Linked DNA regions of Homo sapiens: region 1 is linked to region 2. The links come from fine-mapping of genetic effects on gene expression. A gene starts in region 2. The other region holds a variant in brackets. All regions are shown on one strand. Distances are between the middles of the regions.

What was found. PIP is the estimated chance that this variant, and not a neighbour inherited with it, causes the effect.
Region 1: its variant is fine-mapped to the expression of CACNG8 in whole blood (INTERVAL, PIP above 0.99).

The regions. Positions count from the first base shown.
Region 1 is chr19:53,984,172-53,995,802 of GRCh38, forward strand. It overlaps CACNG8 (calcium voltage-gated channel auxiliary subunit gamma 8), which reads left to right. Exons shown (of 4, transcript NM_031895.6): 4 at 1-6,044. CACNG6 (calcium voltage-gated channel auxiliary subunit gamma 6) reads left to right here and starts at 7,466. Exons shown (of 4, transcript NM_145814.2): 1 at 7,466-9,037. The coding sequence starts at 8,707. The variant A/G (reference allele first, on the strand shown) is at 5,021.
Region 2 is chr19:53,955,582-53,967,044 of GRCh38, forward strand. It overlaps CACNG8 (calcium voltage-gated channel auxiliary subunit gamma 8), which reads left to right and starts at 7,356. Exons shown (of 4, transcript NM_031895.6): 1 at 7,356-7,844. The coding sequence starts at 7,562. RefSeq lists enhancers at 1,741-2,275, 4,486-5,386, 6,197-6,717.

The DNA of each region.
Region 1 (11,631 bases), 29 kb after region 2:
ATGTGTCTGTCACTCGTTCATTCAGCCACTCACCCATTGCCATTTTTGGCCATCTGCTAAGGTACCAGGAAGTGTGTTAGGATCCAGATCCCCAGGGGTGAAACAGACTCTAGCCCTGCTCTCAAGCAGTTTATTGTCATCAAACACCGCCATCCAGGCAGGGCAATCGGTGCTGGAACCCGGACCACCGTGGGTACCGTGGCACACGGTGGACAGAGTGACCAACTGCCAGGAGTGAGCAGCACTTGGGGTAGGCTTCCTGGAGAATATGATGCCCATTCTGGGTCTTGAAGAAATGAGTGGGCATCTTCTGGTTGATGAAAGGCATGAGAAAGGCTTGTGGGGCCAAAGAACAACTTGGGTGAAAACGGGAGGAAGTGAACGAGCATGATGTATTGGGGTCAGTGCTAACAGTTCTGGGATGCTGATGTACAAGGTGGGGCTGGGAGATGAGGCCGGGAAAGTAGCCACAAGCTAGAGTGTAAAGGTACCAGGGTGGCCGGGCGCGGTGGCTCATGCCTGTAATCCCAGCGCTTTGGGAGGCTGAGGCTGGAGTATCACTTGAGCCCAGGAGTTTGAGACCAGCCTGGATAACATGGCGAAACCCTGTCTCTACAAAACATTAAAAAAAATTAGCCGGGCGTGGTGGAGCACACCTGTGGACACAGCTACTCAGGAGGCTGAGGGAGGAGGACCATTTGACTCCAAGAGTTCGAGGCTGCAGTGAGCTAGGATCGCGGCACTACACTCCAGCCTGAGCAACAGACTGAGATCCTGTCTCAGAAAAAAAGAGAAAAAGGTGCCTGAGTTCCAGGCAGAGGGACTGAGGCTCTTCTAAGGATGGTGAGAGAGGATGACAGCTGCGCGGGGGCAAGGGCTGTGCGGTGATTGGAGGGGATGGGTTTGAAGTTCACTGAGAAGGCAGAGGGGACAGCGCCCAGTAGGCTTCCCTTCCATATTTGCTCAGCAAGTGTTTCCTGAGGCCTCCCCCGAAGCCTTGTGCTGGGCGGTGCTGGGAGTGGAGAGGTGATTTTGATCTTGCCCTGCTCTCAAGGGGCTCCCAGTCTGGCGGGAAAACAGGCACAGACGCAGCTTGAGGAGGACGTGGCAGCGGTGGTGCCATGCTGCCAGGGGCTCTGCGTGCCCTTCTCTTGACGGAAGGGTACAGATCAGAGCTGGGTGTTCAGAATTTCTCTCCGAGGCCTGTGTGGAAGGACCAGGAAGAGAGAGACTGAAGGTCCCTAGGAAGAATTCTGCCAAGGCGGTTTCAGGAAGAGATGCTGGGAAATGTAGGAAAAGGAATACAAATCAGTGAGACGGAGAAGCGCTGAGTGAGAGAGACGGATACGTGGAGAGAAGAGGGATGCCGGAGCGGGTGTTAAAAGAGACAAATCTGGCCGGGTGCTGTGGCTCCTAATCCCAGCACTTTGGGAGACTGAGGCAGGCAGATTGAGCTCAGGAGTTCCAGACCAGCCAACATATTGAAATCTTGTCTCTACCAAAAATACAAAAATTAGCCGGGTGTGGTGGTGCACGCCTGTAGTCCCGGCTACTCAGGAGGCTGAGGTGAAAGGATCTCGCTTGGGCCTGGGAGGGTGAGGCTGCAGTGACCCGTGATGGCACCACTGCGCTCCAGCCTGGGCGAAAGAGCGAGACTCTGTCTCAAAAAAAAAAAAAAAATTGAGAGACAGCAAATATTTGCTGGAAGAGGGAGAGGGAACTGGTTAGGGGAGAATGGATTCTAGAGTCTGAAGGCCAAACAGAACGAGAGAGAGAGAGAGAGAGAGAGAAAGAATGAGGTTGAGGGTAGGCAGGAGGAAGAGCAAGATGGGGAGGGAGGGGGAGAGCAGGAGAGACCAAACTAGTAGAGTCACAGACAGAGAAAAAGTCAAAGACAGGAAGGTGATACAGAGGAGAGAGAAGAGGAAGAGGAGAGACTGACAGGTGCACAAATCAGAGAAGTCCCAGAGATAGCAGAAACACACACAGAGACAGAGATAGAGAGGGAGAGGTAAGCCGGAGACAGACTCAGAGATTCGCACAAAAAGCAACGTGGAGACTCAGAAGCAAGCGCAGCGTCAAGGAATGCTCCATTTCTGGTGTGTTGTTTTCCCAGTATTCAAGAAATATTTATTGAGTGCCAACCTGTTCTAGACCCAATCTCGGCCAGGGGATGTGGTGGCAAATAGACGGACAAGGGCCTGCTCTCCTGAAACACACTGGAGAGATAAACAATAAATAATATCATTTCAGTAACCAAAAAGTGCTTTAAAAATTAAGCTGAAGGCCGGGCGCAGTGGCTCATGCCTGTAATCCCAGCACTTTGGGAGGCCGAGGCTGGTGGATCACTTGAGGTCAGGAGTTCGAGACCAGCCTGGTCAACATGGTGAAACTTCATCTCTACCAATAAATAAATAAAGTAGCTGGGTGTGCTGGTGTGCCTGTAGTCCCAGCTACTTGGGAGGCTGAGAAAGAAGGATCACTTGAACCCAGGAGGCAGAGGTTGCAGTGAGCTGAGATCGCGCCACTGCACTCCAGCCTGGGCGACAGTGAGTGGTAACAGAATGACAGAGCAAGGATGACTTTAGATGAGGTCCTTGGAGTAGACCTTGTGGCAGAGGTCACAGAGATGTGGATTGTGAGTAGGAAAGAGAGGTGAGAAAGTCTGGGGGCCAGGCATTCCACCCACCAGAGGCAGCCCCAAAGCCCAGAAAAGTAGCAGGTCTTCGAGGAGGCCTGTGCGGTGAGCAGATCCACCATAGGACAGAGGCACAGGGTAGGGGCTGATCAGTTAGGGCCTTGGATCCTTGGGAAGAAATCTGAATTTTATTCTAGATCTGATGGGAAGTGCTTGGAGGGTTTTGAGCACAGGCATGCCATGATCATATTTTTATTTTCTTATTTATATTTATTTTGAAAAAGAGTCTTGCTCTGTCTCAGGCTGGAGTCCAGTGGGCTGATCTCGGCTCACTGCCAACCTCCGCCTCCCAAGTTCAAGTGATTCTCCTGCCTCAGCCTCCTGAGTAGCTGGGATTACAGGCATGTGCCACCACGCCTGGCTAATTTTTTTGTATTTTTAGTAAAGACGGGATTTCACCGTGTTGGCCAGGCCAATCTGAAATTCCTGGCTTCAAATGATCCACCTGCCTCGGCCTCCCAAAATGCTGGGATTACAGGAGTGAGCCACTGCGCCCGGCCTCATATTTTTATTTAAACAAGAACAGCAGAATTACATTGCTGTGCTGAGCATACGTAGACTTCAGGAGTCAAAGGGGAAGGAAGGAGGTAGCGGGCTGTTGCCTTCCTCTGGTTGCTGGAGGCCTGGACCAAGGTGGAGTTAGTGGGATGGAGGAAGTGGAAGAAGGCATGGGATTTTGGAGGCTAGAGCCTGCATTGGTGGTGAACTGGATGTCATAGAGGAGGGAAGGAAAAGGAACCAGGAAGAGAAGAACTCTCTGAATTGGGCACGCACATCTCTGATGGGCACCGATGAGGATTGTTACCAGGAACGAGGAGACTGGGATCAGGAAAGTGGCTTTGGGAGGGAGGAACCAAGGCTTCTCTTTTGGATGTGTCAAGATAGATCTGCCTTCGAGAAATCCGAGTTGTGGTATCAAATAGCCAGTTGGATATGTGAGACTGGAGTTTGGGGGAAAGAGAGGCCGTGGCTCAAAAACGTAAGTTTTGGAAACGTCAACATAAAGCCACAGGATTGGGTGACGTGGCCTAGCAGGGGGGTGGGGACAGAGAAGCGACCCTGGCCAGAGCCTTGGGGACATCTACATCTGGGGGAGAAGGGGATGTAGCAAAACGAGCTTAGGAGTGATCTCGAGGTAGGCTGAAACCAGGAGGGTTACAGAGGGCAAATGCACCTTTGTGTTTCAAGAAGGAGAGGAGACAGCCAGCTGTGCCAAGGGCTGCTGAGACTTGGACAAGGATGCAGAGAGCAGAGTGACCATTAGGTCTGATGACATGGACAGGGTTGGTGATCTTGATAAGATAAGATGTCAGTTCAGTGCAGTGGTGGGGACAGAAGCCCTGCTGGAGTGGAGGGGAGAGAGAATTTGGGGGGAAGACAGAAGGAAAGGGAATTCAGGCAAGTGTGTGTGTGTGTGTGTGTGTGTGTGTGTGTGTAACTGACACAAAGGCCAGGTGCGATGGCTCACGTGTGTAATCCCAGCACTTTGGGAGGCCGAAGTGGGTGGATCACTTGAGGTCAGGAGTTCGAGACCAGCCTGGCCAATATGGTGAAACCCCGTCTCTACTAAAAATACAGAAATTAGACAGGTGCGGTGGTGCACACCTGTAATCCCAGCTACTTGAGAGGCTGAAGCAGGAGAATCTCTTGGGCCCAGGAGGCAGAGGTTGCAGTGAGCCAAGATCACACCACTGCACTCTAGCCTGGGTGACAGAGCAAGACTCTGTCTCAAAAAAGAAAAAAGGTAAAAAAAAAAAAAAATGACCCTGAAAGGAAGTAGGGAGACATGCAGATAGGGAGATGGGAGGCAGAAAATTGCATCCTGCAATTAGCTGTCACAGCAGGCAGGAGCAAGAGAGATGGGGAAGCCCAGGGCCAGGAGGGGAAGATGAATTCAGGGGGCAGGGAAGAGAGGATGCTGTCAGCTAGGCTCTGGCAGATCCCCTAGCCAGGGATGCTCTGCCCAGCTCCTGTCTCTTGCTGCTGTCAGCGCCGGGCACACTCTGGGATTCCCCCTGTAGACCCTGTCAAGACCTATTGAGGTGAAGGGGAAGAACACGTTTTCATCATTCATTTTCAGAAATAAACATTCACTCAGTTCTTGGAAATACTTTCTGGCCAGGCTTGGGGGCTCATGCCTGTAATCCCAGCACTCTGGGAGGCCAAGACAGGAGGATTGCTTGAGGCTTGGCGTTTGAGACCAGCCTGGGCAATATAGTAAGACCCCGTCTCTACAAAAATGAAAAATGAGCTGTGGCGTGGTGGCTCACGCCTGTAGTCCTAGATACTCGGGAGGCTGAGGCGGGAGGATTGCTTGAGTCC[A/G]GGAGTTTAAGGTTGCAGTGAGCTATGATTGCACCATTGCACTTCAGGCTGGGCCACAGAGCAAGACCCTGTCTCAGAAAACAGAAAGAAAGAAAGTCAAAGAAATAAAGTCAAAGACAAGAAGGTGATACAGAGAAGACAGAAAAGGAGGAGGAGAGAGACTGACAGGTACACAAATCAGAGAAGTCCCAGAGATAACAAAAACACAACCACAGAGATAGGGAGACGTAAGCCGGAGAAAGACCCAGAGATTCGCATAGAAAGCAACGTGGAGACTCAGAAGCAAGCACAGCATCAAGGAATGATCAATAAAAAGAAAAAAAAATATTTCCTGAGGACTTCCAAGTACAAGGCCCTGCAATCTCAGGCCACTTCTGTCCCATCTCTGCCTTCAGAGGGGGGGACAGGTAGTCCAGACAATTAGAATACAGAGGGGGCTGTGTTCTGACGGGGCCACGCGGGCATTGAGGAAACGCAGCAGGCCCCTCCCCTAGCTGGGGCGGGGATGTCTGTGTGCCATCATCTCACTCCATCTGGTCATTCCTTTGCCCATTCATCCATCCATTCATTCAAGTCACCCCATGCACATTTTCCAAGACTGCCTGTGACCTGGCCCTGTGCCGGGTAGAGCTGAGGATGCCAAGGTGAATTCCTCCTGTGCCTGGCCCCGGCCCCAGTCTGCTGGAAGAACCAGACACAGACAATCACACTGCGGGGAAACACGTGCTCCATCGGAAAAGTCCAGAGCAGGGGGTGGGCAGAGAGGCCCAGCGTGCACCAGAGCCTCGCTCAGGTCAGCGCCAGGCCTGCCTGGAGCAGCCAACTGTGGGAGAAGAAGGAGTTGGTGAAAGGTGGGTCCCACCTGGGCCGTCCACAGAAGGGCTGAGGGGTAGGGGGTGAGGGGTTGAAGATCAGGCCCTGCCGCCATGCCACACGGCTGTCCTCTGTCCCTGCTCCTGGGGGAGCTGAAACTGCATGGAAGGTCCCCCAGGGGTGCCCCGTCTAATAAACTCGATGAAGAGGAGTGCTGCTTTCATTCTGTGCCCCTGACAGCCGGCCCTGCCCTGAGGCCTGCGCTTTCTCCAACATGGAAATCAGGCCTTCCATCCTTCAAGACCCAGGGTTCTGGCCCCAGTCTCCTCCCTGAGGCCCAGGACTCTGGGTCTGCCAACGCCTTGACCAGGAGTCCAGGCTCCCCGGCCCTCCTCCTCCCTCAGACCCAGGAGTCCAGGCCCAGCCCCTCCTCCCTCAGATCCAGGAGTCCAGGCCCCCTGCCCCCTCCTCCCTCAGACCCAGGAGTCCAGGCCCAGGCCTTCCTCCCTCAGACCCAGGAGCCCAGGCCCCCAGCCCCTCCTCCCTCAGACCCAGGAGCCCAGGCCCCCAGCCCCTCCTCCCTCAGACCCAGGAGCCCAGGCCCCCAGCCCCTCCTCCCTCAGACCCAGGAGTCCAGGCCCCCAGCCCCTCCTCCTTCAGACCCAGGAGTTCAGGCCCCAGTCCCTCCTCCCTCAGACCCAGAAGTCCAGGCCCCCAGCCCCTCCTCCCTCAGACTCAGGAGCCCAGGCCCCCAGCCCCTCCTCCCTCAGACCCAGGAGTCCAGGCCCCAGCCCCTCCTCCCTCAGACCCAGGAGTCCAGACCCCCAGCCCCTCCTCCCTCAGACCCAGGAGCCCAGGCCCCCAACCCCTCCTCCCTCAGACCCAGGAGTCCAGGCCCCCAGCCCCTCCTCCCTCAGACCCAGGAGTCCAGGCCCCCAGCCCCTCCTCCTTCAGACCCAGGAGTTCAGGCCCCAGTCCCTCCTCCCTCAGACCCAGAAGTCCAGGCCCCAGTCCCTCCTCCCTCAGACTCAGGAGCCCAGGCCCAGCCCCTCCTCCCTCAGACCCAGGAGTCCAGACCCCAGCCCCTCCTCCCTCAGACCCAGGAGTTCAGGCCCCCAGCCCCTCCTCCCTCAGACTCAGGAGCCCAGGACCTAGGAGACCAGGTTCCTCTCCTCTCAGATCCAAGATTCTGGGTACCCAGGCCTTCTTCCTCTACCACTCAGAAGTGGGGTACCGAGGCTTCTTCTCCCTTAGGGACCCAAGACTCCTGGCCTCAGGCCCTCCTCCCTGAGACCCGGGGCCCTGCCTCCCGCCCCTCCTCCCTGGTAACCCCAGTCAGACTTGCTGCCCCGCCCGTCTCCTGCTGCCCGGGAGACTGCGGAGCTGGGACTCTCGGCGCCGCTCTTGCCCCTTAGTGAAATGAAAGTCCCATCAGGCTCGGCCCCTTCCTCCCCGGGCGGCCTCCCTCCCCCCTTCCTCGTCCCCTTAAAACACCCGGGATCCCTATGGCAACAGGCGCCGGGCGACAGGTGCGGGTGTTATTTACGGGTCAAGCCCGAAATAGCCCCGAGGGTGGAGGGTGGAGGGTGGGGGGTGGGCGGGTGGGGACGAGGCCGGGCGCGGGCGGAGGCCAGGCCGGTGGCGGTGGCGGGCACAGCCGGACGCTTCGGAGGCAGCGCGGAGCTGGGGTCGGCGCGGGGCCGAGGCAGGAGAGCGAGAGGGGCCCCTGCTCGGGAGTCGGGGGTGGGAGCCCCGAGGGGGGGCCCTGGCCTGGGGCTGAGCCTGGCGCGAACCCGACCGGGAAGGCCCTGGGAGCCCGGGGGAGGGAGACGGACTGATCCCGAAGGGGCGCAGCGTCTCTTGCGGGTCGCGGTTGGCCTTTGAACCCTGGGGGGACTCAGTCCTGGTTTTCCGAGCCGCAGTGCGGACCACAGCCCCATAGTGTGAGCCCCAGGAGGGCCCCCGGTCCCATCTGCCCCAGCCCTCGGGGAGGCCCCGTAGCCTCCCGCCTCTGGACTCCACTCTGTCTTCCGGCCACCGGCCCCTTTTCCAGGCTCAGTAGAGACCTCGGATCTTTTCTGAATGGCAGGGGAGACCCCTATCCCCTTTTCCTGAATTCCAGCGAGGCCCAGTCCTCTTCTGAGCCCCAGCCAGGGCTCTGTTCTTCTCCTTCTGTGGATGCCGGGGTCCTACTGCCTCTCTTGAGACCCGGATTGAATTCCGACCTCCCCTTGGGAGCTTCCCGGGACCCCAGGTCTTCCTTTTCCGAATCCCAGAGGGTCCCCAAGTCCTCTGTTCTCAAACTCTGAGCCCAAGGGAACCCCGGCCACATCTCCTCCAAACACACACAGGACCTCAGGTCCCTTCCTGGGTACCCCAAACTCTTAGCCCTAGTGGGGTGCTCAGATCTCTCAGGAAAACCAGTTTCCCTTTTGTTAACCCCCCAGCGGGGACCCCAAAGCAGCCCCTTGGAGCTGCAGGGAGCTTCAGCGGGCACCAGTTCTCATTCCTCTGGAGCTCTTGGGGGGACTCCCTCCTGGGAAGCCGAATTCTATCTCTAAACCTCAGGGTGGGGGCCTTGTTTTTCCTCTGGGCCCCGTCTTCTTTGCCAAGTTCTTGAGGGCAACCTAGACCCTCCTCTGAACCCCAGAGGCTTCCCCAGCCCTGGGGATCATTTTTCTCTTCTGAACCCCAGAAGCAATCTCGACTTTCGCATTTGAGATTCCAGACAGGACTCGGCTCTCCCTCTTTCATACCCAGGGGAAACTGAGTCCCTCACCCCCTTCAAGACCCCAGGCCGCTCCTCGCTCCCGCCCCTCGAGGCCCTTCGCCGGCTCTGCCTCCTCCCCCTTCCCGACCCCACCGGCCATAAGATGATGTGGTCCAACTTCTTCCTGCAAGAGGAGAACCGGCGGCGGGGGGCCGCGGGCCGGCGGCGGGCGCACGGGCAGGGCAGGTCGGGGCTGACGCCCGAGCGCGAGGGGAAGGTGAAGCTGGCGCTGCTGCTGGCCGCCGTGGGCGCCACGCTGGCGGTGCTGTCCGTGGGCACCGAGTTCTGGGTGGAGCTCAACACCTACAAGGCCAACGGCAGCGCCGTGTGCGAAGCGGCCCACCTGGGGCTGTGGAAGGCGTGCACCAAGCGGCTGTGGCAGGCGGACGTGCCCGTGGACAGGGACACCTGCGGCCCCGCGGAGCTGCCCGGAGGTGAGCAGCCGCCGCCCCGAGCGCAGGGCTTGCGTCCCACGGACAGGGAGGGAGAGGGGCCCGTGTCCGAGGAGAAAACCCGCCCCAGGGACAAAAGCCTGAGCCCGGAGGAGACAGCTTGCCTCGCAGTAAGCGCCAGTGCCCACTTCGTCCTCTGCTCTCAGAAACTGCTGAGAGATAGAGGGATCCCCCAGATATGGCCCAGGTCCCTCACGGGCCTACCGCCAGAGAACCTGTGCCTTAGAGCTTGCTTTCCTGCTACAGACTGTACCCCAAGACCAGAATGTGCCTACAGGGAGTCTGTGCCCCCAGGCCATCCTGTACCCCCAGACCAGGCTGTGACCTGAGACCCCCTCAGACGAGTCTGTACCCCTATTCTGCACCTCTAAAGAGAGCTTGTGCCCCCGCCTACAGCCTGTGCCCCAAGACCATCCTGTACCCCGACTATCCTGTACCCCCAGATGAGCCTGTGTCCCCAGCTACAGTTTCCACCCCCAGACTAACATGCACCCCTAGACCAGTCTATACCCCCAGACCAGCCTGCATCCTTACACCAGCCTGTGCCCTCAGATCAGCCTGCACCTCCACACCAGGCTATGGTCCCAGATGATTCTATGACCCCCAAAGTCCCTGCCCCCACACAGCCAATGTTCCCAGGCATCGCTGTGTCCCCCCAGACCAGCCTACAGCTCTAGAGAGAGCCTGTGTCACTAGAAAAATCTTGCCTGTGTCCCCAGACCCAGCCTGTGATTCCAGACACAGCTGGTGTCCTCAGATAGCCTGTGCCCACCCCAGACAGCCTGCACCCTCTGGAAGTGCCTGTGCCCTGGAGACAGCCCGTGCCCACTCTGCATGTGCCCACAGACAGCCTGTGCCCATGGAGAGACAGCCTGGGTTCCTGGTGTCAGCTTCCTCTTCCCAGCCTGGAGACAGCTTGCGCTCCCATCCTGTGAGCCCTGGGGAGACAGACGCCCACCCCAAAGCAGGATCTATGCCTGTTCCCCACCTACTGCTTCCACCAAACCAAGCTCTCACCAGACGCCTCCCAACACCCGAGGGCAGACCTTGTTCCTTCCCTGCAATGTTCTTCACTTCCTGTCCTCTCGCCTCCAAATGCCCAGACTGGACATTTCAGCGTTTCTCATTTTCTCCGAGAGACATTCCCATACTCCCTCCTTTCCCAAATCATGGCTGTTTTATCCCTGGGCATGGCAGAGAGCTGTTCCATACCTCCCTGACACGCCACGCCACGGCTTGTGCTTATACCAGGGGGACATTCTATACCCCTTGGGAACTGGATGAAATCTCCTTCTACCTCCACTGACCCATGGAAAATACCTGGCACTCCTCAGAGCCCATTTGGGCTGTCATATATTTGATCACCCATATGAGATCTCCAGCACTCTTCAGTCTCCAAAGACGGTCCTATCATCCCAGTGCCCCTCAAAGAATATGGCCTATTTTTCTGGGCTCCGTATGAGATTTCCCTCGTCCCTCACTTCTCCAGATGTGATATCTTATATGTGTAGAGTGCAAAATAGGATGTCCCAAGCCCTCGATAGGACAGTGGGATGCCAGGCCCCCCGGCTGTCTGAGCTACCCACTTGGTGTCCAGATGGGCTACCCTTGATCATTTTATTTCTGCAGATGGGCTGTCTCTGGCCCCTCAGGGGTCTCATAAAGGATGATCTCAAACTTTTGCAAAATGGGAGTCCCCAGTAATAAGAATAGTAGCTGCTTATGTAATGCCTGGTTCTCATCTCAGTGTTTTATGTACATTAACTCATCAAGCATCATAGCTAGCCTATGAGTCGTTATTATCACTCCCGTTCTAGAGAAGAGAAAAATGAGGGGGCGAGAAATCTCGGTGGCTCGGTCTATGCACCCAGGCTAGTTAGATGGAATTTGAAGCTTGGTTGCCTCTCTTCTCAACAACTGCATTATATCACATCTCACTGGTCCATCAAGAGATCCCAAAGGTCAAAGGTCCTGGGACAATGGAGGGGTGGCCCATCCCATCTCACCGCATTGTATGGGGTTCCTTGCATCCCTTGCTGTCCCCTCCATTGATCAGAAAGGACTTCAGTCTTCCAGCAGGGCCATTAACGTTATCTTACAAACCCAACCCCTCAGAGGACATCTCTCAATCTTCATTATCTCAGAGAAATATCTCACACTCACCACTGCCCATCAAAAGGCATCCCTGGCTCCCTTGGCTATAAGTATGGAATGTGGGGGTGACCCTTACCCTGCACTTTTCCAGATGGGATGTGTCATGTTTGGGGGTGGTCGAATTGGGATGTGCTAAACTATTAGTAGCCAAAAGAGGATGCCAGGCAACCTACATTGTCCCAGAAGGGCCGTCACACTTCCCTTGTGGATGTAGACCGTGTTTCCCGCAATGACTGCTTCAAAGAGCACCTGCACCCTTCGCTCAGTGACGTGAAGCACCCTTTACCTCTTTTTCTTTGAAATGGAGTTTTGCTCTTGTTGCCCCGGCTGGAGTGCAATGGCACGATCTCGGCCCACTGCAACCTCTGCCTCCAAGGTTCAAGCAATTCTCCTGCCTCTGTCTCCCAAGTAGCTGGGATTAC
Region 2 (11,463 bases):
CCGTTGAATTGTACACTTTAAGTGGGTGAATTGCATGATATGTGAATTCGATCTCAATAAAGCTGTGAAAAAAAGAGATATACTCTTTAGTTGTTGAAATAAATCATGATGTAATCATGCATCACTTAGTGTCACAAAATTACCAATAGAAGAACTAACACTTGAGGAAGAAGGGAAGGAAAAGTGAGGGCTGCATGAATTGATTTGTTATCTATTAGAGAAAAAATATCTATAAATAATGTATAATTTTGATTCCAAAAGAAAATCATTATTTAGGGATGTCAAGGCAAGTAAGAGAAGAAATAGCTAAGAATATTAATAGACGGCCGGGTGTGGTGGCTCATGCCTGTAATCCCAGCACTTTGGGAGGCCGAGGCAGGCAGATCAAGAGGTCAGGAGATCAACACCATCCTGGCCAACATGGTGAAACCCCATCTCTACTAAAAATGTAAAAATTAGCTGGGCATGTTGCTGCATGTCTGTAATCCCAGCTACTCGGGAGGCTGAGGCACAAGAATGGCCTGAACTCGGCAGGCAGAAGTTGCAGTGAGCCGAGATTGCGCCATTGCACTCCAGCCTGGCGACAGAGTGAGACTCCGTCTCAAGTAACAAGAACAAAAGCAAAAACAAGAATGTTAATAGACTTTTCCAATAAGGAAAAGGACTTGAGGTGGAACAGGCTAAATTATTTTTATTGTAGTCCCTTGTGTACCATTTGATTTTTTTTCTTTTCTTTTTTTAAACCATGAGCCTATATTGATTGGACTAGGAAATATATTTTCATTTAAAATAAAATAAAGAGGTTTCCCCCAGTTGCTAGTTCGTATAATTTAATAGTTCTCAACAGGGGCGATTTTGTTCCCCAAGGGACATTGAGCAATGTTTGGAGACATTTTTGGTTGTCCCCAAATGCTATTTTTAGGGTGCTATTTGGAGGTGCTATTGGCATCTAGTGGATAGAGGCGAGGAGTACTGCTCAGCATTCTACAATGCACAGGACAGCCTCCACCACACAAAATTATCCAGCCCAAATGTTGAGAACGTTGAGATTGGGAAACCCTGGCTTTAAAAAATTATCTTCATAGTCGTTCTCACCAGTGCAGTTGTATCAGCACAGGCTCTGGAATTTGATGTCCTGATGAATGTCCTCCAATACAACTGACCTCTCAACCTCAGTTTTCACATCTTTAAAGTGGAGGCTGCTAACAGAACCCACTTCTTTTGAAGATGGAACCAATACCCTCAGGCTCCTTGGAGTCTGTAATATTAAATGCCCAGTTTGTTTTTATTTTTATTTTTTTCGAGACGGAGTTTCACTCTTGTTGTCCAGGCTGGAGTGCAACGGTTCGATCTCAGCTCACTGCAGCCTCCACCTCCCTGGTTCCAGTGACTCTCCTGCCTCAGCCTCCCAAGTAGCTGGGATTACAAGCATGCACCACCATGCCCGGCTAATTTTGTATTTTTAGTAGAGACGGGGTTTCACCATGTTGGTCAGGCTGGTCTCAAACTCCTGACCTCAGGTGATCCGCCCGCCTCGGCCTCCCAAATTGCTAGGGTTACAGGCATGAGACACTGCACCCAGCCTAAATGTCCAGTTTATATTGGTTATCATCATTGTTTGCTGATGTATCTCCCCCCGCATCCCCCAGCAAAAGAGCAGAAAATAATCAACTTTCCTCAAACGAATGAATTCCAGACCCCTTCCCTTGGGGGCTGTGTTTCTTAGCTTCTAAACCAGGAGTGTTGGAATGCATGTCTAAACTTTCTCCCATGGGGCGGGGTGAGAATTAAGTGAAACGACCTAAAGAAATTTCAGTAGAAATGTGAGATGCTGGGGACTGAAAGATATCGCCCCTCCAAAGGAAGGAACCAGCAGGAGCAAACACTAGGTAAATAGATTTAGGGAACACAGGTTATTCCTGTTTCTGCCAGCCCCCAGGAGGGAGCAGTAAAGGTGTGCTGGGTTAAATGACTATGAATTTCACCTATTGTTGGCCGCCCTCCACCCCCATAACCCCTATTGTCTCAGAGCCTCAGGTTACTCATGGTTAATGTAGGAACATTGGTGCCCACACGGCAAAGATTCTGTAGGACTTCTGTAAGACAGCGAAGCATGCCAACAGCCTTCAATCAGCCATGGCTACTAGTTCTTAGTTTCTGATAACATTTTTACGAGGATCGGGTCTTGAGTAAACGGCTTGCCTAGAGCCACGTGCAATCCCACTTCCCATCCGCGTTCTCACTTGGTTGGAGGCAGCTTCTGTGCCCTTTATAACCAAGAGCAACTGAGTATAGAGGAGAAGAAGTGTTTTGTCCAAGGTCACACGAAGCCTTGGGAGCATCCGTGAAATTTGGACCCAAGACCGAACTTTCAGACTCTGATCTCAGACTTTCCACCTCCGATTGTTCCACTTCCCCAACCTACTAGCTAGTTCTAGAACGGACAGATCCATGCTTCTCAAAACTGTTGCATAGACCCCTACCCAGTCCCAGACAAGTTTCTTTAAGACATATTTGCACCCAAGCTTTTGGCATTCTACTCTCCTTCCCAGCCCCAGCCCCATCTCGGGGGCATCTAACTCTACCCCTTCTTCCCCATCAGGTTTGAACTAGGGGAGGGGAGGGGGATGAGAAGAGAAAAGAAAAAATTGTTGGTGAAAGTCAAAAGGCTTGTTAACGTGGTAAGTTCAATATTGTTTTATCTGGGGTGGTGGGGGGGGAATCTTTGCCCTCGCCACTTGGAGGAGGAGCGGTGGGAAGACCCCGGGAAGTTGCGCTTTCCCTTGGATTTTGGGAAAGGGGAGCATTCCTGGGGTCCTTTTGAAAAGGCCCTCCCCTCATTTCCGGCCGCCGCTGCCAGCCTTGGCTGGGCGCCTGGATCCTGTTGCTATGACGACAGGAAGAGGCGGTGGCGGCGGCAAGCGATGCTGAAGAGAGATGGAGGCTAGTGGGGGTGGGGGTGGTGGCATTGGAATGGGGGAGGGGGCAGGGATCCGGGGCTGGGGACGCGGGAGGGGGCGGGGGCAGGGGTATCCTTCATCTCTGACCTCCTCGGGGCTTCTCAGCCTCACCCCTCTCCCGTTATTTTTTCTGGGCTTCCTTCGGGTGCATCCCCAGTCTCTGTGTCTGCCTCTGTTTCTCTGGATCTCTCTCTCTTCCTGTCTCAGTCCCTCTCCGTCTGTCTCTCTCTGGGTCTCCCTCTTTTCCTGCACTTGCCTTTCTTTCCCCAGGTACCTTCTGCCATCCAGGCCCTTCTACCCTCCATTTCTTTCATTTACTATCTTGCTCCCCCGCTCCCTCTCCGCATCTTCTTCTCTCTTTAAAGCTTCCTTCTCTCTAGCAAGACCTTGCCCCCATCCCCAATTTCTCTCCCTACCCGCTCTCCATTTCATTCCCTCTCCCCCCTCTCTCCCCCATCCTCTCAGTCTCTCTCTTTCTGTCTGTCTCTCCCCATCTGTCCCTCCTCCCTCCTCTCTGGATGACTCTCTCCCTCTCTCTTCTTTCCTTCTGTTTCCCAGATCCTGACCCCCCCCACACACACACTTACCCCAGCCCTCCCCCACCCCCTCCCCCCCAGCCCCTGCGTTTCTCTCTTTGAGTCTCTGTCCCTGTCCCCTTCTCTCTCTGGATATTTCTCTGTGTGTATCTCTCCAACTTCCTTCTGCTTCCAGCCGCTGCCTCCCCCAAATTTCTCCCTCCCCCATTTCTGTTTCGCGGTCTCTGGGTCTCTCTCTTTCCGTTTCTCCTCGTCTCTCTCTGTCTCTCTCCCTCCCTCTCTGGATCTCTCTCTTCTCCTCCGGCTTCCTTCTGCCACTCGACCCTGCCCCCCTCTTTCCCTTCCCCCATCCATCTCCTCTCCGAGGCTCCCCATCCCTCAGCAGCTCCCCTCCCCCTCCCTCCCTACTCCCTCCCTCTCGTCCTCCAGCTCCGCACTTTACCCAGCGACACGAGAACCAAATTGTCTCCTCACCTTTTTTTTTTAATATATATATCCCGACCCTCACTCCCTTGGGGCCCAGGCTCAGAGCTGCCCCCCAGCCCCAGCCTGACCTCAGCACCCCCATTCCCCATACGCCTCCTCATCTCCACTCCCCGAACCAGGTCGGACGCCTGGGTCCCTCACTGCTGGGGGAGGGGGAAGCAGCGAGAATTGGGAGCCAAAAGGTTTTTCTGGGGGGGGTGCCAACAGGGGGGGCTCGACGTCCCCTCCTCCGTGCATCGGAGAGTTGACCTATCATTAACAGAGGTGAGACAGATCTTTTTATTAATCGGAGGTGGGTGGAGGTAGAATTAATGTTCTGTGATCCCCCCCCCCGAATTCTGGAGAAAAGAGCTGGTCCCCTTCCTAAGGAGAAAGGAGAGTGACCCCCTCATATCCGGAAGCTTTAGAATTGGGGGTCCCCAGCTCTCTTCTCCCTGGCAGCTGCTGAACGATGGACTAAGAGTCCCTAAAACCAGATTGTGCCCCAAATTGACAAAATGAAAAGATCTTCGAATCTTTTTTTTTTTTTTTGGACGGAAGGAGAATTTCCCTCCTTTCCCTCCTCTTCCCTTCCCCTCTTATCCCAGGTTGTTAGGGGCCTGGGGTCACAGGCTTACCCCACTGAGAGCAGATATCTGTTAAGACAGGGTAGGTGGCCCTGCTGGTGGTGAGGGGCACCAATTCGGGGAGAAGAGGCCAAGAGATCAAGAAGAGAGGAAACTCAGCATGCGGACAGAAAAGAGAGGAAGGGGCCGGCGCCCAGGCCGGGAGGCTGGGGGTTGCCCTGTCCAGCGGGCTGCTGAACTGTGGCCTGAGGAAGGGCTGTGTGTGGGCAGACGGGAGTTGAGGTGGGGGAGGGAACACAACGTGTGGGGCACTAGGCCCAGTTGCCATGGAGACACCCCCCATAGACAACCTTTTTCCACAGCCCCTCCTCGGAGCAGCCCCAGTCTGAGGCCAGCTGATGGGGGGCAGTGGAGACGGGCAAGCAATCAGGAGGCCAAGGTCACCCTGTACTGGGACCTAGGTTCTGGTTTTTGTTTTGTTTTTTTTTAATCCCCTCTTCGTCTAAGGTTTCCAGGCTCTTAACTATAGTGGGTTTGGGGGAAGAAGTTGAAGAAGCAGTGTGGAAGCAAGTAAGGAGTACATCCCCCAGAGGACAGTTGGGGTGGGGGAGACAGGCAGGGCTGGGGGCATGGTGGTCGGGGGAGAATGTGGAAGAGAGAAATGAAGGAGCCACGGGGCAGCGGGTGCAGGCTGGGAAAGTATTCCTAATTGAAAAGAGAGTTGTAGTCTTGCGGATCACATTTTTCAGAGGGACACAGTCTACTGGGGGGGCTCTTTCTGCATGTGGAAGAAGATGAGGGGCTACAGTGTGTGTTCCTGTACAGGTGAAGTCGTAGAGGGGAGTACTGGGGGGCGTTCCCAAGAAGGGAAGCCTGTGGGGGCCTGCGGAGGGGATTTTCCGGGGCAGAGGAGAACCTGGGAGCTATAGCGGTGGAGCAAGAGGAAGTGAGTCAAGGGAATTCTATATGATGAGAGAGAAGTTGGGGAGGATGCTTCCTGGTACATTGAAGAGAGAGTGGGCTTCAAAGTGAGTTAGGGGGATCTCAAGTTGGGGGAAACAGTGTGCTGAAGATCCCGTGTGATGATGAAGGGCTACGAGGAGGGGATTTGGAGGCAGTGGGAGCTGCTGTGAGTGCAGAGGGGCGGGTGGGTGGTACAGTGTGCCCCCTGCTATGGGAGTACAGGGCAGAGATTGGAATGGTCCTGAGTGGAGAGACATTTGGGGTCTGGAGGAAGCCATTCTTGCGAGTAGAAAATGCCGTGGAACTCACGGAGGAAATTTTTCTTAATGGAGGAGAAAACGATGGTTATGATATGAGTTCGTTTAAGTTGTGGGGGGGGGGGTGGCGGGGTGGGAAGATTCAGAAAACTCTTCTAAAGCAAAAGAGAGGGTGGGGGTTTTCCTGGAGTAAAGGCATAGTATGGGGTGGGGAGTGAGTGGCTTGTGGGGAGACAGTGGGGGCTGTGACAGGGAATGGGCTGGAGATGGCGGGGGGGGGGCAGCTTGCAAACCAGTGGGTCTGATGTTGGGTGCATTAGAATTCCCCAGGGAGCTTTTAAAAACTTACATGCGCAGGCCACACTGCAGACCAACCATGTCGGACTTTCTCAGGTGGGACTCAAACATCCGAATTTTTAAGGTCCTCGGGTGATTTCCAGGTGTGTTGGAGGCTGCCCGAGGCAGGAAGGGGGCTTCCAGGGAGAGGAGGCTGACTGAGGGTGGCTGGTGATTCCGAGTTGCACAAACTGTGAGGGTCAGCTGGGATTTTCTTTTTCTTTTTCTTCTTCTTTTAATTTTTCCTTTTTAGTTGAAGAGAGGTTGAGAGATTTATTTTTTCCTAAGGAGAGGAAACTGTGGGGGACCATTTGGAGTGATGGAATGACAAAAGCCAGACCGGAGGGGGCTCGCGGAGGTTACTCCCACGGAAGTGGTGCTACTCGGGCTTCTTAAGTTGTGGAGACGCTCAGGGAAAAGTTGGGCTGACAGGGAAGGGTTCTAGCGGGTGGAGAGGTGGGGCTTGCAGGGGAAGAGTGGGGAGAGCTGGTGGGCGCCGCATGGTGATGGGGCGGGGGTCGCTAAGGAAGGAAGAACGCGACGGGGGCTCCTGGGGAGGAGGCGGCGGCGTGGGGCTTGGCATCATGGCGGGGGGTGGCTTCCCATGCGATGAGGATCGTGGAGCCCCCTGGGGCGGAGGCGGCGCGGGCTAGGGGCGAGGGCTGTGAGTGTGAGCGGTGGTGGGGACTCCTCCGAGTGGGGTTAGTGGGATGGTGGGACGACTTTCTTGGGCAGAAGACAGGAGTGGAGAGAGATTTCATCTTATTTATTAATTATTAGCGGTGGTGGGGACTCCTCCGAGTGGGGTTAGTGGGATGGTGGGACGACTTTCTTGGGCAGAAGACAGGAGTGGAGAGAGATTTCATCTTATTTATTAATTATTAGCGGTGGTGGGGACTCCTCCGAGTGGGGTTAGTGGGATGGTGGGACGACTTTCTTGGGCAGAAGACAGGAGTGGAGAGAGATTTCATCTTATTTATTAATTATTAGCGGTGGTGGGGACTCCTCCGAGTGGGGTTAGTGGGATGGTGGGATGACTTTCTTGGGCAGAAGACAAGAGTGGAGAGAGATTTCATCTTATTTATTAATTATTATTATTATTATTATTATTATTATTATTTTTGAGAAAGAGAAGCAGTGGAGCCCCGAGTGGAAGGAGTTTCTGGAGCTGAGGCAGGGATTTTGGGGGGGGGGGGGCGGGGACTGGGGGAGGTACCTGTGCCTTCTTCTCCTCTAATGCGAGATCTCGCTCCTTGCCCTCCACCAGCCGCCGACCATGGCCGCGCTCTGACCCCCTCCCCGGCCGCAGCCTCCTCCTCGCCGCCCCCCTCCCCAGCCCCGCCGGCCCCGGGCCCCCCGCTTCTGCCTGCGCTGTGAACCCCCCCCCAGCCGCCGGCACGGCCCCGCCCCCGCTGCCCCGGTGGTGGCCCACGGCCCCCCGGCTGCCCGTGGTCAAACTGGAGTCGCTGAAGCGCTGGAACGAAGAGCGGGGCCTCTGGTGCGAGAAGGGGGTGCAGGTGCTGCTGACGACGGTGGGCGCCTTCGCCGCCTTCGGCCTCATGACCATCGCCATCAGCACTGACTACTGGCTCTACACGCGCGCCCTCATCTGCAACACCACCAACCTCACGGCCGGCGGCGACGACGGGACCCCCCACCGCGGGGGCGGCGGCGCCTCGGAGAAGAAGGACCCCGGCGGCCTCACGCACTCGGGCCTCTGGAGGATCTGCTGCCTGGAAGGTAGGGTGCGGGCGGCCCTCCCCGCAGCCCCCGCCGCTCCCCTCCGAGAGACCCTGAGCCTCCCGGGGCTGCCTGTCCCTGATCCTGGGGCCCCCTTGGGCACCCCTCCTCCTCTGCCAGAGGGGCTTCTGCGCCTTCCCACTCGCGCCCCTGACCTCCTCTCCCCTCCTTCCCACTCCTCCCTGCGTCCTGGCACCCTGCGGAATTCCTCGGCATGCTCCCTCTGCAGCCCCTCTGCCTCTCCGCTGAACCCCCTTATCCTATCTTTCCCTAGTCCGTGTCTCCTGCGCTGCCCCATCACACCCCTGCATCTTCCCTCTCTCCAGTACCTGGGGCTCCTCCTGTTTCATTTCTTCCACTCTGCCCTGTGCCTTTTCTCTTTTTTTTTTTTTTTTTGACAAGGTCTCACTCTGTCGCCCAGGCTGGAGTACGGTGGCACAATCACAGCTCACTGCAGCCTCGAATCCCTAGGCTCAAGCCATCCTCCCACCTCTGCCTCCTGAGTAGCTGGGACCACAGGCATGAGCCACTGTGCCCAGCTAATTTTTTTTATTATTTGTAGAGATGAGGTCTCCTGTTGCCCAGGCTGGTCTCGAGCTCCTGAGCTCAAGAGATCCTCCTGCCTTGGCCTCCAAAGTGCTGGGATGAAGGGCATGAGCCACTGCACCCAGCAGCCTCTTTCTCCCTCTTTCCCGTCAGTTCATCTTGACCCTGCTCCTCCGCTCCACCTGCCCCTTCATTTCCTCTCCCTCGTGCCCCGTGACATCTTCTCTCTCCCGACATTTCCCCCCCAGTCCTCTGAAGTCCCCTGCCTCTCCCGCCCCCTTTCACGGCCCAGTCTTCCGGTCTGTCTCTTTCCCCTTCTCTTTGGCTGCTGCTCCCCTGAAACTTCGTGCCTTAACTCGCCCTCACTCATGACTTTCTCTCTTTTCTGCCTTGTGCTTCTCCTCCTGTTCATCTTTCTCTTCCCATCAGTGCCCCCACCCATGTCTCTCCCACCAGGGTGCCCTCCAACCTCCCATCCTGGTCCTTTCCTCCTTTTTCCTTTAGTGGACTCCACTTCCTCTTCCTCCACTCATGCCTCCTTCGACGTCTTCCTGACTCGATGCCTCAGGCCTTCACGTTAAGGCTTCTCGCTCCTGCCCCTGCTACCTCCTCGGATCTTCGACTTGGTTCTTTTCCTCTGTCCTGTTCTCCCTCTCACAGCTTCTCTCCTAGCTCGGCTCCCTGGCTCTCGACTTCCCCACTTCTCCAAGACTCCTGCCCTCTGCTGTGCCAACCCCTTCTCTCTCCCACTCTTAGCATCAGTATTTCTTTCCTGAGTATCAAGTAGCTGCGGGGCTGGGAAGCAGGAGTCTTGGGTGCCAGTTCTGCTGCATATCTGCCCTGCTGTGTGACCACTGTCTTCCCTCCTGCACCCCAGCCTCACAGCCCTTGTCTGCAACGTGAAGGAGTGGAACCAGCCATCCTGATGCCCCCTTCGGCCAAAAGATTGAAATCTCTTGCTTCTCTTTTTCATCCCCCTCTATTTCCTCTGCCCCTTCTTCCTCTGTTTTGCTGAGTGTTCACGACAAGCCGGGAACGTTATCTCGTTTAATCCTATGAGGTGGGCACCACCTCGCTGTTGGGGATGGGTAAACTGAGGCTCAGAGAAGTGAAGTCACTTGCCCAAGGTCACCTAGCTGAGAAAGGGGCCGAGCCAAGAGCAGAACTCGAATCTCATGGATGGGATTCACAGATGCGCTCTGTCTAGTGTACAAAGTGTTTAAAACTGAAAGCAAAATCTGAATCCATTGCCAACAGTTAAAAATAGGGAGGCTTCCCATTGTAGTTCTGATTTCCGGCTTCTTCTGAGCTGGCGGAAGATCTAGCACAAGCCTGTGTTCTACCCTGACCACGATGGGCCGGATCTGAGCAGCAGCTGGGGGGTCTCCACTTCCCCACAGTCACCTCCATCTGCTCCGTCTCGCCTCCCATTCCTCCCACGGCTCTCGTGATGTTCTTTGCCTCTCCTGTGGAAGTTTGAGTTCATGTCCATTCACTGGTCTGACCAAGTACCAGGCATAGAGCCAAGTGTGAGGGCTCCCATCATGGGAGCCCTAGGACAGCACGTGGCATCTAGTAGGGATGTCATTCATTCATTCATTCGTTCATTCAACGTCCCATTTTTATTGAGTTTATATTATGTGCCAGGCATTGTTCTGGATTCTGGGGCTGCAGCAGTGGAAAACAAACAGACAAAACCTCCTGTCGTTATATATCTTATATTCTAAGGGAGAGACAGATAATGATGGAGGTAAAGTCAACCTTTAGGGTGTTAGATAGAACTGAGTGCTAAGGAGGACAAGGAGTTGGGGGAGGGGATGGGAGGGGTCAGGGATCCCCGTGGGAAGTAGATAAGGAATCTAGGAAAAGCTTCCCCGAGCAGGTGACATTTGATCACAGGTCTGAAGGAAGTAAGAGATGGAGGAAAGTGCTTCAGACTGTAGGAATAGCAGGCGCAGAGGCCCTGAGGTGGGAGTGTGGCTGTGTGTTGATCAAGCCAGTGTGAGGTCAGCGTGGCCGGGGCAGAGTGGGTGGCGGAGAACGTAGGAGTAAGAGGTGCAGTCGTAGGGGTATCAGGGTCCCCATCCCACAGGTTCTGTTTTTTAAAAATTATTTATTTATTTATTTATTTATTGAAACAGAGTCTTGCTTTGTCACCCAAGCTGTAGTGCAGTGGCGTGATCTTGGCTTACTGCAACTTCGGCCTCCTGGGTTCAAGCGATTCTCATACCTCAGCCTCCCGAGTAGCTGGAATCACAGGTGTGTGCCACCATGCCCGGCTAATTTTTGTATTTTTAGTAGAGACAGGGTTTTACCATGTTGGCCAGGCTGGTCTCGAACTTCTGACCTCAAGTGATTGGCCCGCCTAGGCCTCCCAAAGTGCTGGGATTACAGATGTGAGCCACCATGCCTGGCCAGCTTCTGTGTTTGTTTTTGTTTTGTTTTTCTTTTTTTGTTTTTAGGCAGGGTTTTGCTCTGTCACCCAGGCTGGCGTGCAGTGGTAAGACCATAGCTCACTGCAGCCTTGAACCCCTGAACCCAAGCCGTCCTCTTGCCTCAGCCTCCCAAATAGCTAGAACTACAGGCACATGCCCCCATTTTTTGTAGACACAGGGTCTCACTATATTGCCCAGGCTGGTCTCAAACTCCTGGGCTCAAGCAATCCTCCGGCCTCAGCCTCCCGATGTGTTGGGATTACAGATGTCAGCCACTGCACCCGGCCTCACGGCTTCTTATACATCCCAGAAAGCACTTTGCTTTAGATTCGGAGATGGGAGCCGTTGAAGGTTCTTGAGCAGAGGAGTCACACGAGCTGACTTACATTTTTGCGGTATGTTTCTTGCTGCTGTGTTAACAAATGACCGAGGGGAAGGCAAATGAGACAACGAGAGGCTCATCTAGGGTGGGGGCAGCAGGGTTTGGGAAGTTGTTTGAATTTTGAGTATATTCTGGAGCTACCGTGGGCAGGAGTTGCTGATGGAGCAGTTGTAGGATATGAGAGAGAAGAGCCAGGGGCGTCTCCAAAGCAGGGTTTTTCCACCGCAGCATGGTTGATATTTTGGGGTGGATAATT